4 linked regions of the Homo sapiens genome follow. The protein of the gene in region 3 purifies or fractionates together with the protein of the main gene of each other region. This does not show direct contact. Each region holds a gene or a part of one and is shown on either strand. Other genes may lie near its edges.

Region 1 (4,261 bases), on a different chromosome or scaffold from region 3:
AGAGTATTTTGCTAGGCTCTAAGGAGATAAAGATTAATGAGAGAGACCAGGTCCAGTAAGGAGTTAACTACTTAATTACAATGGTATTAAGGACTGTAGGGGTTACAGGGGGCCACGCCAGCATATAAAGGGGACCTGCTAGCCAGATGGTGCACGAAAACTTTTCTGAGGACTACACACTTTCGGAGTGGGCTGAAATCAGCAGAATGATGGAAGAGATATACCTATGGACAAAAGATTGCATTCTCAACTGAGGGAAGGGAAAGCCCAAAGGTCGCTACACCTCAGGAGAATTCTGAGATTCTGGAACTGAAAAAGGTCAATGTAGGTAGAGCACAGAAATCCTGCAAGTATGTGGAACTGGATAAAACCTTTAAAGTCGGTAGTGGAAAGATTAAGTAGGACTTCCAAGACCACTGAAGATGTTGTATTTTATCTTGGGATCAGTGGGAATCAATTAGAGTTTTAATTCAGGGGATATGCATTACAAAAGAGATCACTGGGTCCTTGTGAGGGGAATGAATGAGGGAGAGACAGTGGGGATAGCAGCTGTAAAAGTTAAACCAGGCATTTCTTAATTTTTTTTAATTTTTTTTAACTTTTCAGAATTAATTATGCATAACTCATTTTTTCTGCTAAGCAATTGCCTACTGAAATAATAAAAATTCATAATGTGAAATTAAGTGGCCCATTGTTTTCTGACTCATATTTCTATCAAAACTTCTATTTTAGTTCTGATAATTAAGATTCTATTTGTTTAAAAAATACTAAGAGCCTGTGATATAACAGATATCCTTAAAAAAAAAAAAAGCTGGGTGAACTAATTGAAAATATAAGGGGAAAATGCCATGTAGTCTAGTTTTTGTGTTTGAAAAACATAGAAAACGCCAGTAGAGAAAAAGACCATTTACCATGAAGATACAAATAAGCATAATTTTGCTTCTTTGAATAGTTGGTTTTCAAAGTGCCCACAGATATTGCCTAACCCACTAAGTATTGGGTACTACAGTAAATCTTTCAGGTTTTTTTTTTTTCTCTTTTTTGAGACATAGTCTTGCTCTGTCGCCCAGGCTGGAGTGCAGTGGCGTGATCTTGGCTAACTGCAACCTTCCGCCTCCCGCTCCGCCTCCCAGGTTCAAGCGGTTCTCCTGCCTCAGCCTCCCAAGTAGTTCGGATTACATGTGCCCGCCACCACGCCCAGCTAATTTTTGTATTTTTAGTAGAGACGGGGTTTCACCATGTTGGCCAGGCTGTTCTCGAATTCCTGACCTCAAGTGATCCACCCACCTTGGCCTCACAAAGTGCTTCTCAATCTCAAAAAGAGATTGAGAAAATTAAGAAATGTCTGGTTGAACTTTTACAGCTACTGTCCCCACTGCCTCTACCACCGCGCTGGGCCTCAGATTGTATAAAACATTTTAATTGGGAGGCCATTATGCTGAAACAGCTCCAACTGCCTTGGATTTCCTGCTTAAGCAAACTCCAGCCCAAGGTCAACAGTGAAAGGAAACTTAAGCTTAACCTATCAGAAACTGCCAACTAACCTCTAACTAGTAATTTTCCACCAAGTCATAGCTAAATAAGGCAAACAGTCATAGCCAACCAAGTAATTATTTTCCTTTGCTTCCCTGTTCGGCCTATAAAAGCCCATGCTACTAAAGCAGACCTCTCTGAACCCCTTCTGGTTTAAGTACTGCCGATTCATAAGTTGTTCTTTGCTCAAATAAAAAAGGTTATCCTACTTTGTCTGAAGTCTTTCTTTTAATAAGATGTTAGGTTTCCACACTAGGCAGGTTCTCCATAAACACTTTCACCATTTTTATTTCTTCTCCTAAGTCATGTATATATACTTTTTTACTGGCATCTAAGTGTTCTGCCTCAGATTAATGTACTAGATTAAGAACTAGGAATCATGCCTATTTCTACAAAAGAATCGTTCTTTGAATTAAGCCTTTGGACCTTCCTGATGTCATCCAATTCCTGCTTTCAGTCATCGAAGTGGGCAGTCAGGTGGTTTTAATATTGCTCCAGAAGGTGTTTGATTAAAGTTGCCAGAAGCCTTACAAATTGTTATGTAGATAGAAGGAAAATGTACTGAAAGCTATTTTTTTTACCACTCTTCATGGGTGGTTTTGAGGTACTTTAAAGGAAAGGGCTAGCAGGTATAGAAAACTAAAGGTAAGCAAAATACTCTGCATTCTAATGTACTGTTGGAGTGCTGAGATTCTTTCAAACGAAATCCTCGTTCCTTGGAAACATAAATGGATTATCCTACCTTGTTTGCTTTTTACACCCAGAGTGCTTCCGCAGAGGCACAGCAGGGGAATGAAAGGAGCTTGCCTTAGGAGGCAGATCTGGTTTGAACTCTCGCCTGCCTACGCAGGCACTTACAGGCTGTGAGGCCTGAGGAGTTACTCAACTTCTCTGAGCCCGAGCTTCCTCATCTATAAATTGAAGGATCCGTAAACAGGAAGGCCCTCATCGAGTGGTCAAAGCTGGTTTCGGCGCCCACGGCACCTCTCCTTAGGGCTCCGTTCTACCCTAACTTCTCTTCGTGCCCTGAAGCCCAGACCTAGAGGAGCAGAGGAAGGCGCTGACCTCGAAATCTGGATGGTGGCGAATCGGGCGGCAGAGCTCAGGCTCCGGGCATGGGCAGTCGGTCCCGGCCGCGAGCCGCAGCGCCAGCAGCGCCAGCAGCGCCAGCAGCGCTAGACCCGGGACGCCGCTCGGCGGGCTAGAGACGAGGCGCCAGCGTCGAAGCTGCGGCCGGGACATAGCAGCAGGTCTAGCGGGCCGGAGTGGGTTCCTACCGCCTGGGTGGGCGGGGCCTGCTGCGCGTCGGGGCAGGAAGGGGCGGGGAGAGTCGGGAAGGGCGGGGAGGGGCGGGAGGGGCGGGGCTCCGGGGCGGGCGTGGGAGGTCGGGCTTCGAGCGTCCCCGGGCGCTACAGGTGGGTGAAGTTAAGTGGCTGCTGGAGCGTCTCGGGGGACAGCCAGTGTCTGCGGCGCCGAGAGGGCCGTTCGTGGACTCAAATGGGTATCACCCCTACCGTTTATAGTCCTCCCAATAGTCTGCATCTCGTTTTGTCGTGGCTGGTCGTGTACTCCTTGTGGAGTCTGAAGGTACAAGGGGATCCCCAAAATGGAGAAGTGGGTGTCTTTGGAAGGGCCTACTGAGTAACATGGTTGGAGTGGCCAAAAGACTTTGTTTTTCTTTTGCTACTCAAAAGAAAGCTGGAATACCAAAAATTTTTACTTACGGATATCAGGTCTTAGTTAAGATCGTGGTTTGAATTCAAGCATCTAATTTTGCCTACTCTCCTGTTAAAAATCAAGTTTAACAACCTAAACACAAGGACAAAGAGATAACAGCAACAAAATGTTGGAAGCTGGAGAGCACAAGTATGAGTATGAGAGGTAAATCGGAAAAGGGGGAGATTAGTCAAAGGCTGCTCAAGGACTCTGATCGCTAGATCCTTTTTCCAGCTTCATGTCTCTGGGCAGCTGCCCCTCTTTCCCACCACGGGCTCCCACCCCGGCTGAATTCCCTGAAGGGGATAAATTCTCTGCTGAGTGGGTATTCCACCTAAAACGGAGAATAAGTGGCTTTATGCCTACTGAAAACTGAAACCCCTCGCTATCTGATTAACCTAAGAGGCTGAGCAAAGATACTGACATCGGGTTTTCTGGACAAATCATACACCCAGATCACCCTACAGTGAAATTCAAAGTTAAAAGCACCAGCTATCTACTTGGAGCTTCCTCTCTTTGTACTTTTTAATTTTTACTTTTAATCATGGACAGCAACCAAAAAAATCCAATAATGTAGAAAGAAGGGACCCAAACAACAGACAAAGGAATATGGAGGAAGCAGATGCTGCAGGGAGAACACTTTTAAAAATTCTCATAATAGCCCCAGAAAAATAAGAGAAGATGAAGCCACAACAGGGTGCAATAAAAGGGGTAGGGGATTTTTAAAAGTTAATAGAAATAAGAAAGAAGTGAAAAAACTATTAGTAGAAGATAACACTGAGGAATGTAGAGCAAAAACTCTGAAAGATAAGAAAATTGGAAAACGCAGTACAGAGGGGATGAAATAAATAATTCTTAAAGGTGCTTGAGAAGCAGCGTAGTACAAATAAGAAGAAATAAGTAATTTGGGCTGGGCACAGTGGTTCATGCTTGTAATCCCGGCACTGTGGGAGGCCGAGGTGGGCAGATCACTTGAGCTCAGGAGTTTGAGACCAGCCTGGCCAACATTGTG
Region 2 (4,188 bases), on a different chromosome or scaffold from region 3:
TTTCTTCACCTCTTAGGTGAAGACAATTCCAACCTGATTTAAATGATAAGGGGTAGGTGGGTGCAGCAGCGGGAAGCTCATGCTTGTGTGGTATTAAGCTTCTGTCCAAGGATATAGAAAAGGTGGATATCCTGGAAGGATGTTGAGCTACAATTTTATGATAAAGGTATTGCTTAACCCATTTTCCAGGGGATGAAGTTGTAGTTAAAAAAGACCTATGCCTGAAGCTTGGCAAAGAATGAATTCCTGGAATTGCCTCTCTCCCTTCTCTATCCCATTCTCTATCCCACCCACCCACTTACCTATAATCCTCATATTTCCCACGAATGCCTGAACTTGAACTACAGTTGCCTGTTCATTGGATTATTTTACAAATCAGGAAGTCACATTTTAAAACCTGGGACCCCGGTCATTTACCTACCTTCACCCCAAGGTTCTAAATCCACTAGGATACAAGGACTTTTTTATTACCAAACAAATCAGACAAAAAATGTAAAAAATCAGACTTTAAATGTTTTATTTTGTTGATTCTGTACACCGTCAGGAAACAAGGTTAGAAGTAAAATAAAGTGCCAGTTAAATTCGGCTACTACCAACAACCAAAACCTTAAACATAGAAAATCAAAGTAAACTGCGGAAAGGTCATAGCATAACCTTGGGTAAAGGAATTTGTTAACGTCTGTAACAAATCGAAACTGACTACGTATGTAGCTCTTCAACTGCAAGACGGCGAGAAGGAAGACCTGCGGGCCGCGCTGGTCAAGGGCCCGGCCCGCTGAGGAACAGCGGAAAGCGCCTTCCCGCCGTCGCCACCGCAGCTGGGATCCGCCGAGCAGCGGGCGGTTCAGGGCTCCCGGTACTCCTGCGTGTTAATGAGAACGTTCATTAGCGCTCTTGACAGGACGGCGACTGTGAGACGCCTGGTTACCTATTTTAGTAAATCGGGAACACTGGATGCAAGGCGGTTGGTTTTCGTTTTTAAGCAAGCTTAAATGTTGGTTACGCTACTTTTGGGGAAAGGGAAACGAAAGGTGAATCTCGAGTTCTAAGTTGCTTTCTAAGAAACCCCCAGGATTTAAGAGCGAAAACTCTCTGCGACAAAACACTGGATACGCGAGTCTTAAATACAGCTCTCCAAACAGCTGGTCTACAAAAGTGGACCCACGTCCCAACCCAGCGCACCCTGCGTTGTCCTCGCCCCTACCCACCGCACCCCGACGCCGACCACCTGTCCGCCGAGGGTCCGTCCGTCTGCCACGTCCCAGACCGTCTGCACCGCCTAACTGGTCTTTTTCTGCCTCTTGAGTTCCGGCAGCCTCCTTTGATAGGACCTGGCCGGCGGGAACAAGGGCGCCCGTGGCCTCTGGCGGAGGAGAAGGAAAAGAACCACCCCTCCGCCCCCGCCACTGCTCGAGCGCAGCCCCTAGTACTGGGAGCCGGCGTGCTCCGCTCCGGGGAGGTAGCGCTCGGGGATGGCCTCTCGCTGCACCCGGGGCGCGCCAACCACGGCAAGGCGCCCTAAGTTCTACATCGGCCCCGCGAAGCGCGCAACTCCAGGGACAAGGAGAGAGATGTGCTGGGTGAGAGCGAGCACTTTCTGCCTAAAGCCGCTGGAACCGACCCAGAACCCCAAACTGCCCCGAGGCGCCATCGAACATCCGCTCTGGTCACTTTAACGTCCCAGGGGTGGGGGCGGGGAAGGGGGTGCCCGACAGTCCCTTCCTCTGGACTGGAAGGTTCGAAATGCTTTCCTTGCTCGGCCTCGCTCTCCCAGACGCAGGGAGCAGGGGCGCGGAGAAGCTGAGCGAAGGGAGGCCGGGCCGAGGTCGCGCCCCAGGCCCAGGCCCGCCCTCACTTGGAGAATTGCGCCTGCACGGCGGCCAGGCCCAGGCTGGCCGGGACCAGGTGCGGGAACTTGCACACGGCGCAGGTGCAGAGGCCGGGGCCGCCTGCGCCGCCGCCGGGGAGAGCGAACTGGCCGCACGGCGGCTCGTCCAGCGCCAGCGACAGGTACTTGGCGGGGCGCAGCGCGTCGGGGGGTCCTACGGCGCCGGGCGCCAGCAGCACGGAGCCGGGCGCGGCGGCGAGCAGGGGCAGCCCGGCCAGCAGCAGGCGCGGCGCGGCGGGCCCGGCGCCCTCGCCCAGCGCGCGGCGCAGCTCCTGCAGCGAGCTGCCCAGCAGTAGGATGTAGTTGCGGGCGAGCAGCAGCGTGGCTATCTTGGAGAGCTTGCGGCCGGGCGCGCCCTGGCAGTGCGCCGCTGAGTAGGGCAGGATGACCTCGCGCAGGGCGTCCATGGCCAGGTTCAGGTCCTGCATGCGCTTCCGCTCGCGGCTGTTGATCTTGCGCCGCAGCTGCTGCTGCTGCTCCTCCTTGGCGTCCGGCCGGGCGCTGCCGCCCGGGTGCGCGCCTGACCCGGGCCCGGGGCCTGGAGGCTCGGCCGGCGCCTCCGGCTTCTCGCGCGCAGCCTTGGGGAGGAGGGGGGCCGTCGTGGAGGAGGAGGAAGTGGAGGAGGTGGAGGAGGTGGAGGAGGAGGAGGAGGAGGGCGGCTGCCTGTAGCCCACCAGCTCGTAGAGGGAGGCCCCGAGCTGCAAGTCTCCGGGCCGCTGTGGCCGCAGCATGGTCCCGGGGACCGCGTTCACGCGCGCCTGGGAAACCGCATAGTACATCTGGGAGGCGGTGGGGGCGGCCGAGGACGCCCTTCAGGAACGCCCTGGGGTGGGCCGGTCGGCAGGCCGCCCCTCCCCGCGGACCTGCGCGCGGGGAAACGATGGTGGGGCCCTGGCCCGCGCCCTACCCCTTTAAACCCGGCTTGGGAACCTGCGGGGCAGCGGGTGGCGGGGCGCAGCCAATGGAGGCGCGAGGCCGGGCGCAGCCGCGTGTTCATTGGCTGCTTGTGCCGGGGCCGCGCGGAGGTGCGGCTGGCACCGCTTTAGGAGGTTATTGTGAGCGCCTGTGCCAGCCGCGCGGGACAGGCCCCCTGAGCGGAGTAAGGGCGCCTTTTCAAGGCAAGCGGGGCTGTTGAAGGAGGACTGGTCGCACTGGTCAGGCTGCAACTCACGTGCCTTCCTCCAGCAACTGTCTACTCAAAAACAACCTCCCTCATATTTTTTTTTAACTGTGATCACATATTCATAACATAAAATTTACCGTCTTATGTTTAGAGTACTGTTCAGTAATGTTATATGCATTAGTGTGCACATTAAATTGATTTAAATTAAATTCACATTGTTGTGCAACCCATCTCCAGAACTCTTTTCAACTTGCAACCCTGAAGCTCCACCCATTAAACAACTCCCCACTCCCCCCGACCCAAGTTCCTGGAATTCACTCTTCTGTTCTGTCTCTATGAATTTGTTCTACTCTAGGTCCCTCATATAAGTAGAATCATACAGCACTTGTCTTTTAGTGACTGGCTTCTTTCACTTAGCATATTGTCGTCAAGGTTTATCCATGTTGTAGCATGTATCAAAGTTTCTTCCTTTTCAAGGCTGAATAATATTCCAGTATATGGATATACCACATTTGGTTTATCCATTCATTCGTTGATGGACATTTGGGGTGCTTTTGGTTGTTGCGAATTATGCTGCTATGAACATGAGTGTATCATGTTTTTTTTTTCTTAAAATACATAATTTCCTGCCAGGTTCAGGTCGCTAAATTTCTGGACTAAATGACAAGTAGCATTAGGATATTTCCTCCCTGCTGCTCCCAACCTCCTTCCCCATCCCTCTGATTGAAAGGTCTTTAGGGACAAAGGAGCCTTTGGGTCGGGTTTCTATCCTCCCCGAAAGGGATGGTCTATCAGCAACTTGACATTTGCTTAAGCAAAAGTCACTCAGAAATTGGCCTCTTATTAGAAACAAAACAAAACACCCACATAGTCCTATCGGTTGAGGGTGGGAATGAATCATTTTATTTGCCAAATAGAATAGCATTACTTGGTGTCTATGGACATTTTCTGCCCCCAGCACCAGTGCATGCTACTATAACTTGTCAATGTCCTGGGGAAGAGGGCATCTTGGTGGCTGTGCTTGCTGGTTTCAGGGCTGCTTTGTTCTGGTTTTCTTCCACCAATATTTGCCACATGGGTTCACTCTGATCTTTGCTTCTGACCCCCAGCTCTGCCTGTAGCATCCTGCCTATGCCTCAGGTTCAGCTCCAACCTTGCTTTCTTCTGGAAGCCTTGG
Region 3 (3,500 bases):
AATGACAGGTAAGCTGACACCTGGAGGAACAGATGGAGGAGGGAGACGTGAGAGGAGCTGGAGGTATGGGGGTGGGGGATACATCCAGGCAGGAGAAGCCGACGTGGAAACTGCCTGAGATGGAAAAAGCTAGATGTGCTCAAGGAGCAAGTGGGACCCGCATGGCTAAGGCCCAGGCTGGGCACAGTGGCTCATGCCTATAATCCCAGTGTTTTGGGAGGCTGAGCAGGAGGATGGCTTAAGCTTAGGAGTTTGAGACCAGCCTGGGCCACACAGTGACACCTCGTCTCTACAACAAGTGAGGAGGAGCAAGGCCACAGAGATGCATGGTGAGATGGATGGGACCGGACCCTGTAGAGCCTCCCTCAGATTCTAAATGCAACCAGAAGGCCAGGTGTGGTGGCTCATGCCTGTAATCCCAGCACCTTGGGAGGCCGAGGCGGGCAGATCATCTGAGGTCAGGAGTTCATGACCAGCCTGGTCAACATGGTAAAACCTCATCTCTACTAAAAGTACAAAAATTCCCTCCACATGATGGTGCGTGCCTGTAATTCCAGCTACTCGGGAGGCTGAGCCAGGAAAATCGCTTGAACCCAGGAGGCAGAGGTTGCTGTGAGCCGAGATCATACCACTGCACTCCAGCCTGGGCAACAGAGGAAGACTGTCTCAAAAGAATAGAATAGAATAGAATAGAATAGAATAGAATAGAATAGAATAGAATAGAATAGAATAGAATAGAATAGAAGCAACCAGAAGCCACGGGAGGGGTTAAAGTGAGGAGGAGTGGGCCGGACACGGTAGCTCATGCCTATAATTCCAGCACTTTGGGAGGATGAGGTGGGCAGATCGTCTGAGGTCAGGTGTTCGAGACCAGCCTGGCCAACATGGTGAAACTCCATCTCTACTAAAAATACAAAAAAAAAAAAAATTAGCTGGGCGTGGTAGCAGGTGCCTGTAGTCCCAGCTACTCAGGAGGCTGAGGAAGGAGAATCACTTGAACCCAGGAGGCGGAGGTTGCAGTGAGCCGAGATCGTGCCACTGCACTCCAGCCTGGGTGACAGAGCAAGACTCCATCAAAAAAAAAAAAAAAAAGAGCAGGGGTGGCATTTATTCATTCAAAATCCTCCATCACCTTTAGAATACAATCCCTAGTCCATACTGTGCCTTCCCTCAAACTCATTTCTTATCTTCCTTCCCCTCCCTCGATCTGCCTTTTAGTTGTTTCCTGCAGAAGCCACCTCAAGGCCTTTGCACTCGCTCTTCTCTTTGCCTGGGATGATCCCTTGACCCCAGCTATTTGCATGGCTTGCTTCTTTGTGCAATAAAGAGTTCTGTGCAAATTCGAAGAATTGGTAGCAACTGATGGTCTGGAAGGTTTATGACTCTGCACAGACCAAGTTATGGATATTCATAGAAAATATTTTAGGGGCCATTCAAAATAATTATTCAACTGTAAAACAAGCCCTAATAGCCAGACACCCATGTCTCGTCTGGAACATCCAGGTGAGGACCAAGTTATGCTTTGGGCACTGGCAGGTTCAGATGCTTGGAGAACCCTCTGTCCTGAGCCCCGGGGTGGTTGGGACCAGCATCCTGCCACCGCTGCTGTTTCTTGGCTGGTCGGAAAAAGGGTTGCTGTGGCTATGGAGTCAAACCACAGGAAAATATGGGGATAGTTTTTCCAATCATCAAATGAGGGAGAATAAACTCCACCTTGGGATCTTATACATGCAGCAGATGCTGGAAAGCACTGTGTAAATGTCAGAGGGGGCATACAAGCCAGATATTTTCATTACTATTTATGAAGACAGCATACAAGCCAGAATTTTTGTTTGTTTTTGAGATGAAGTCTTGCTCTGCACCCCAAGCTGGAGTGCAGTGGCACGATCTTAGCTCACTGCAACCTCCGCCTCCCCGGTTCAAGCAATTCTCTTGCCTCGGCCTCCTGAGTCACTGGGATTACAGGCACGAGCCATCACGCTCAGCTATTTTTTTGTCTTTTTAGTAGAGACACGGTTTCACCGTGTTGGCCAGGTTGGTTTTGAACTCCTGACCCCAAGTGATCTGCTTACCTGGGCCTCCCAAAGTGCTGGGATTACAGGCATGAGCCACTGCGCCCGGCCCAAGCGAGATGTTTTAATTACTATTTATGGAGATGGGGGAGAGACAAATTTTGCCACCTCCTCTAAACCCTTGACTACCTGCAGTGTCATGCTTATATTCCTGCCTGGCCCAAAACCCCAATTCCTACACCTTAATTGGTTCATTAACCTCAAGCTTTCATTTTGACCCTTCTCCTCAAGATTCAAATGAATAATTTTTGGCTTAGATGCTAAGATCCAGACAGGCAGAAGGTTATAATGCCAGAAAGAGCCTGCCCTGGAGCCCAACCACCTGGGTTTCCATGCTTTGCCTCTTACTACCTTTGTGACCCCAACAAAGTACTGAGTTTCCTGGGTCTCAGTCCTCATCCGCACAGTGGAAGGGATGGTGATCACTGTTGCTGCTACAGAATGTTAGTGTCGTTCATAGACGCTTGGTGGGTAGAATAATACCCACCCAACACAAATCTGTCCACGTCCTAATTCCTAGAGTCCACGAATATGCTAGGTTGCATGGCACAGTGGATTTTGCGGGCCAGTCATGGTAACTCATAATTGTCATCCCAGCACTTCAGGAAGCTGACGCAGGAGGATCACTCAAGCCCAGGAGTTTGAGATCAGCCTGGGCAACATAGTGAGACCTCGTATCTACAAAAAATCTTAAAATTAAAAAAAAACAGCCAGCATGGTGGCACATGCCTGCAGTCCTAGCTATTCGAGAGGCTGAGGTGGGAGGACTGGTTGAGCCCAGGAGGTCGAGATCAGCCTAGGTAACACAGTGAGACCCCTATCTACAAACAATCTTAAAAAAAAAAAGAAAGAAAACTAGCATGGTGGCACATGCCTGTAGTCCTGTCTACTCAAGAGGCTGAGGCAGGAGGATCACTTGCACCCAGGGTTTTGAGGCTGCAGTGAGCTATGATCCAGCCTGGGTGACAGAGCCAGACCCTGTCTCAAAAAAAGGAGTGTGGAAGACTTTGCAGATGTCATAAAGCTAAGGATCTTGAGATGGGAAGATGATCCGGGATTCCCCAGATGGACCCAATGTCATCACAAGGGCCCTTATAAAAGAGAGGTGGTGGGATGCCGAGGCGGGTGGATCACAAGGATCATGAGGTCAGGAGATTGAGACCATGCTGGCCAACATGGTGAAACCACGTCTCTACTACAAAAAAAAAAAAAATTAGCTGGGTGTGGTGTAATCCCAGCTACTCAGCTGTAATCCCAGCTACTCAGGAGGCTGAGGCAGGAGAATCTCTTGAACCAGGGAGTTAGAGGTTGCAGTGAGCCAAGATTGCACCACCACACTCCAGCCTGTCAACAGAGCGAGACTCTGTGTCAAAAAAAAAAAAAACAGAGAGAGAGGCAGGAGAGTCAGAAAACCAGGTGTGACAACAG
Region 4 (4,104 bases), on a different chromosome or scaffold from region 3:
GCAAATCCCAAGTGGATAAAGGGACTCACTGAAGGGGGGCGCAGGTGCACTGGAGGGTTGTTGAGGCACCAGCCCACACACCACAACTCTGGGTCACCAGGACAAAATGCCCGGCTCCTGTATGAAAGTCAGGAAGGGCTTCGAACCCACTGGCAGGTTAACTTTCCTTTCCCCACCTTGCAGGAGAGACGAACCAGGTGTGACCGCACCTGCGATGCCCGGGCTGACAGCAAGTGGGAAAGTTCATGGTCCACATTTATGAGCACTGGCTGATAAAGACGGGGCGCTGGTCCCGCCTCCCCCCACGGAAGGGAGGTTTCATCATCTCCTACTTAACTGCTTAGAAGAAACACCCAGCAACAGAGGCCGTCGATGCAGTGGCCAGTGTCATGAGGGGCAACTTTCCAGCTATCGGGGGATGAGAATCCACCCAGCACACCAGCGCTCGCTCCACCCTGTGCTTCGTCAGGACAGCTGGTAAAAAGTCACAAACACCGGAGGGTAGCAGGCAGGCCAGCGCACTCCGGTTTCCACAGCGAGTCTCTGTCACTGATTCGTGACGTGTGTGGATCAACGGGGCAGTGACCACAACAAAAGGAAGTCTCACTTACGCCCCAGAAACACAGCCGGGCCCCGTGTCCCCTCCAGATCACACCCGCAGCTCCAGCAGCCCCCACAGCTGCCCTCTGCCAGGCTCTGCAGGTGTGTGTGTGTTGGGGGGGGTCCCCTGTGTGTGTGTGTGGGGGGGTCCCCTCTGGGGAGTCTGAGGCCAGGACTGGCAACGATGGCGAAGAGGGCCTCCAGGTAGACAGGAGGGTGCGCAGGTCCTGGAGGGCAAAGCACTCCTGTCCCGCTGCTGTCACCTGCCTGGAGGAGCCGCCCGCCCCTGGAGGTGGAGGGGTGGCCTCCCCGCCACCCTCGGCTGCCTACCGCGCCCTCCCTTCGGGCTCCGGGAGGCGCCCCCTCCTACCGGGCACACAGTCCCCTGACACCCTGAAAAGGGCGCCGGCCCCTTCTCGACACACTCGGCCTGGGTGGCGGGGGCGGCGTTTCTGGCTTCGGTCTGCTGGAGCGGAACGCCCCGGGCCTCGGTTCGGGGATGCACCGACCCGCCGGGCAGAGGCAGCGAGCCGGGGCTGAATCACTCCGCGGGGGCAGGGGCGGCCCCAGAAGAGCCGTCGGCCTCGGAGGCTCCCGGCGCCGGCGTTCCCGGCCGACCCCCCCCAGACCTCCATCCGCCCGCGGCCCCGCTCGGCCGAGAAGGGAGGCGGCCGCTCCCGGGACAGCCGGGCACCGCCCACGGCCCTCGGGGCGACTCTGCCCCCCAGCGCCACGCCCCTTCCCCCGGGGAGGCTCCGCCGGGGGCGCTGGGGGGCGACTGTGGCTTCGCGGGGACCCGGAACGGAGGCTGCGGCTGCGGGGAGACCTGCGCCCGCCCCGCGGACACCACCCGCCCCGCACCGGCTCTGCCCCGACCTTCTCGGAAAACAGCTTCGCTCGACATCACCGCGTGACTCGGCCCGCGGCGGGGGCGGGGGCGGGGGCGGGGGCCGCGCCGAGGGGAAGCGGGACCCAGGCCCGGGCCAGCCCGGCCACGGCTCTCCGGGAGGCGCGCGTCACTCGGGTCCCCGCGCATCTGCGAACCCCGGAACTGGCGACTGCGAGGCTCGCGCAGGGCGGGTTCGGCCGCGGTGCCCTCGGCGCCCTGGGCTTCGCGTGGGAGCGGCGGCGGCTCCCGAGGGGCAGTCGCGGTCGGCGCCGCTCTCGGCGGCCACGCTTGAGTCAAAAAAAAAAAAAAAAAAAAAAAGTCCTCGGCCGCCACCGCGGGTGGGGGGGGGGGGGGTCGCCCAGCGCAGCGCGCGCCGCGGCCAAGGGCGGCCTGACCTTCACGGGGCAGGGGCGGGGGGCCCGGCCGGAGCCACACTCGGCCCGGCTCACAGGTGCCCGCCCGCGGCTCCCCGAGACGGAAGTGGCCCCCGCTGCGGTCCGCGCCCGATCCCCGAAACCGCCGCTCCCTCCCGCGGCCGTCCCTTCCCGCTCTGGCCCGGGGCGGCCTCGGGGCGCGCAACTCCCGGAGCCTGCCAGGAAGGGCCCGAGGACCGACCCCCGCCTGCCCCCGGGATGGGGTCGCGGGACCGGCGGCCCCCGAGGCTCGGACACGCGCGGAGCCGGGACCCACCCGGCCGCGCTGCAGGCGCGCCTCCCCCGGGCGTCCTCCGGGCCGGGAACCGGGACGCCGCGGGCTCTTTTGTTCTAGAACCGGGGGCGGGGGACAGCGGGCACCGGACTGGGCCTGGAGAGCGGCCCCCGGAGCCCCTGCCCCGCGCCCGCCCCCGGCCGCGCCCCCGCACGCTCGGCCGGCCCGGGACGGGAGGGGACGCGAGGGGAGGGGGCCGGGCCGGGGTCGCGCCGCGCACACTCACCTCCCCTTCCAGCTGCACCGGTCGCTGGAGTACTGCGCGCCCGCGCCGCCCAGCAGCCCGGCCAGGAGCAGGAGCAGCAGCGGGAGCGGCGGCGGGGGCGGGCCCGGGGCGGGGGGTCGCGGCCACGGCTGCCCCGCGCGCCCCCAGGCCGCCCGCGCCGCGCCCCGCATGCTCTGGCGCCGGCTCCGCCGCCCGGCCCCGCGTCCGCGACCCCCGGAGCAGACCCCGGAGCCGGCGAGCCGGGCGGGGGCGGGGCGGGCTTCGAGTCCGGGTGGTCACGTCGCGCGCCCCCCGCGTCCTCCGCGCGGCCGCCCGCCCATCCCGGCCCGCTGGAGCCGCGCGCAGAGCTCCGCGCCCGCCGCCGCCGCCGAGCCTCTGAAGTTGGCGAGTCCGAGTCCGCCCGGCCGGGCTCAGCTGGGGGGTGGGGCCCACCCGCCGCCCCGCCCCGCCCCCGACCCCGCCCCCGACCCCGCCCCGCGCCGGAAACTCCTCCCGGGGCGCCCGGCCGGACGCGCAGACACCGAGTCAGCAGCGAATCGGGGGCGCGGGCGCCGGGGCGGGGGGCGCTGCAGGAGGAGGGGGCCGCGCCGGGCGGCGAGCGGGGTCCGGAGGGAAGAGCCCGGCCTGGAAAGCGGAGTCCGGGGCCGGAGGGGTTGCAAGGCGAGGGCGGGGCGGAAACCCGAGACCCCCAAGTAGTGGCCGACGCGAGCCGCGGTCGCCCCCCGCAGACCCCCGCGAGGCGGTGCCGGGGCCGCATCCTGCGCCCCATCCTGCGCCCCATCCTGCGGGCAGCCCCGGCGCGGAGCGGTAAAGGAGGCTCCCGGCCCCGCCGGTTCTGGGTCCCCCGCGCCTCGCCAGCGGGCGGTGATCAGGGGCGATCCGGGCGCCCCGCGTTCCGCAGAGTTGGTGCCTCGGGAGTTCCCGGCTCCCTCCTGACCGGGGGGGAGGCCCGGCGGTGAGCCCGGCTTCCCTCCCTCCTCCCGGAGGACGTGCAGCCGCCGCGCCGGGGCCTCTGCCGAGCGCTGCCCACTCCTCGCTCCGGATACGCGGGGCCGGGTGGTTCTTGGGGTGGGGACGTCCTGCGCATGGTGGGATGTTGGCAGCACCCTGGCCCCCGCACTCTGGGTATCAGTAGCAACCCCCGCCCCAGCTTTGACAACCTAAACTCTCTGCAGATTTGGCCAAATCCCGCCCCCACCCCGTGCCCGCGGGGCAGAATCACCTGCGGAGCGTCCTGCTCGAGTGTGTTCCTCGGAGTCGGCGCCTTCCCCAGGTGGTCACCGCGGCCACCACGTGCCTGACCCAGTGGGGGGGACAGCGGAGACCCCCGCCCGGACTGGGGAGGCCCTAGAGACTCAGGCCAGAGAAGGGGAGCCAGAGGGTGCCGAGGGCCCCCCAGGCAGGAGAGGGCGGAGCTGGCCCGCCCGGCGGTCCCCGCTGCGATGGCAAAGCTGGCTTCTGTGTGCTGCGGGTCAGTGGCCCTGCCCGAGACGCCTGGTGTCAGTTCCAGAGCCGAGCGCAGCATCCAGCGGTGGGGAAGCTTGGCCTTGTCCCCTTTTCCAGCCAAGATACCTTCCAGGAGGACTTGCGAACGACCTGTGCAAGTCTGAATAACTGGGTTGTGACTACCAGAGGAGGCGGGGAGAGGGCTTTGAAAATTGTGAGTCTGCAGGGACGGAAG

Evidence for each region. Proteins that work in one complex are often made in the same cells at the same time.
Region 1: the proteins of ELSPBP1 (region 3) and CTBS purify together in Homo sapiens (affinity purification with mass spectrometry; one large-scale study listed by BioGRID and IntAct). This does not show direct contact.
Region 2: the proteins of ELSPBP1 (region 3) and OLIG1 purify together in Homo sapiens (affinity purification with western blotting, with the first as the bait; one study listed by BioGRID). This does not show direct contact.
Region 4: the proteins of ELSPBP1 (region 3) and METRNL purify together in Homo sapiens (affinity purification with mass spectrometry; one large-scale study listed by BioGRID and IntAct). This does not show direct contact.

What each region holds. Positions count from the first base shown.
Region 1 is NC_000001.11:84,571,641-84,575,901, forward strand, and holds the start of CTBS (di-N-acetylchitobiase precursor), read right to left. Parts: upstream 2,801-4,261; 5' UTR 2,776-2,800; coding exon 2,599-2,775; intron 1-2,598. UniProt on the Homo sapiens protein: Involved in the degradation of asparagine-linked glycoproteins. Hydrolyze of N-acetyl-beta-D-glucosamine (1-4)N-acetylglucosamine chitobiose core from the reducing end of the bond, it requires prior cleavage by glycosylasparaginase.
Region 2 is NC_000021.9:33,068,726-33,072,913, reverse strand, and holds OLIG1 (oligodendrocyte transcription factor 1), read right to left. Parts: upstream 2,774-4,188; 5' UTR 2,668-2,773; coding exon 1,852-2,667; 3' UTR 501-1,851; downstream 1-500. UniProt on the Homo sapiens protein: Promotes formation and maturation of oligodendrocytes, especially within the brain. Cooperates with OLIG2 to establish the pMN domain of the embryonic neural tube.
Region 3 is NC_000019.10:48,001,132-48,004,631, reverse strand, and holds part of ELSPBP1 (epididymal sperm-binding protein 1 precursor), read right to left. Parts: intron 1-3,500.
Region 4 is NC_000017.11:83,078,305-83,082,408, reverse strand, and holds the start of METRNL (meteorin-like protein isoform 1 precursor), read right to left. Parts: upstream 2,801-4,104; 5' UTR 2,594-2,800; coding exon 2,424-2,593; intron 1,264-2,423; exon of another isoform or gene 971-1,263; intron 475-970; exon of another isoform or gene 338-474; intron 1-337. UniProt on the Homo sapiens protein: Hormone induced following exercise or cold exposure that promotes energy expenditure. Induced either in the skeletal muscle after exercise or in adipose tissue following cold exposure and is present in the circulation.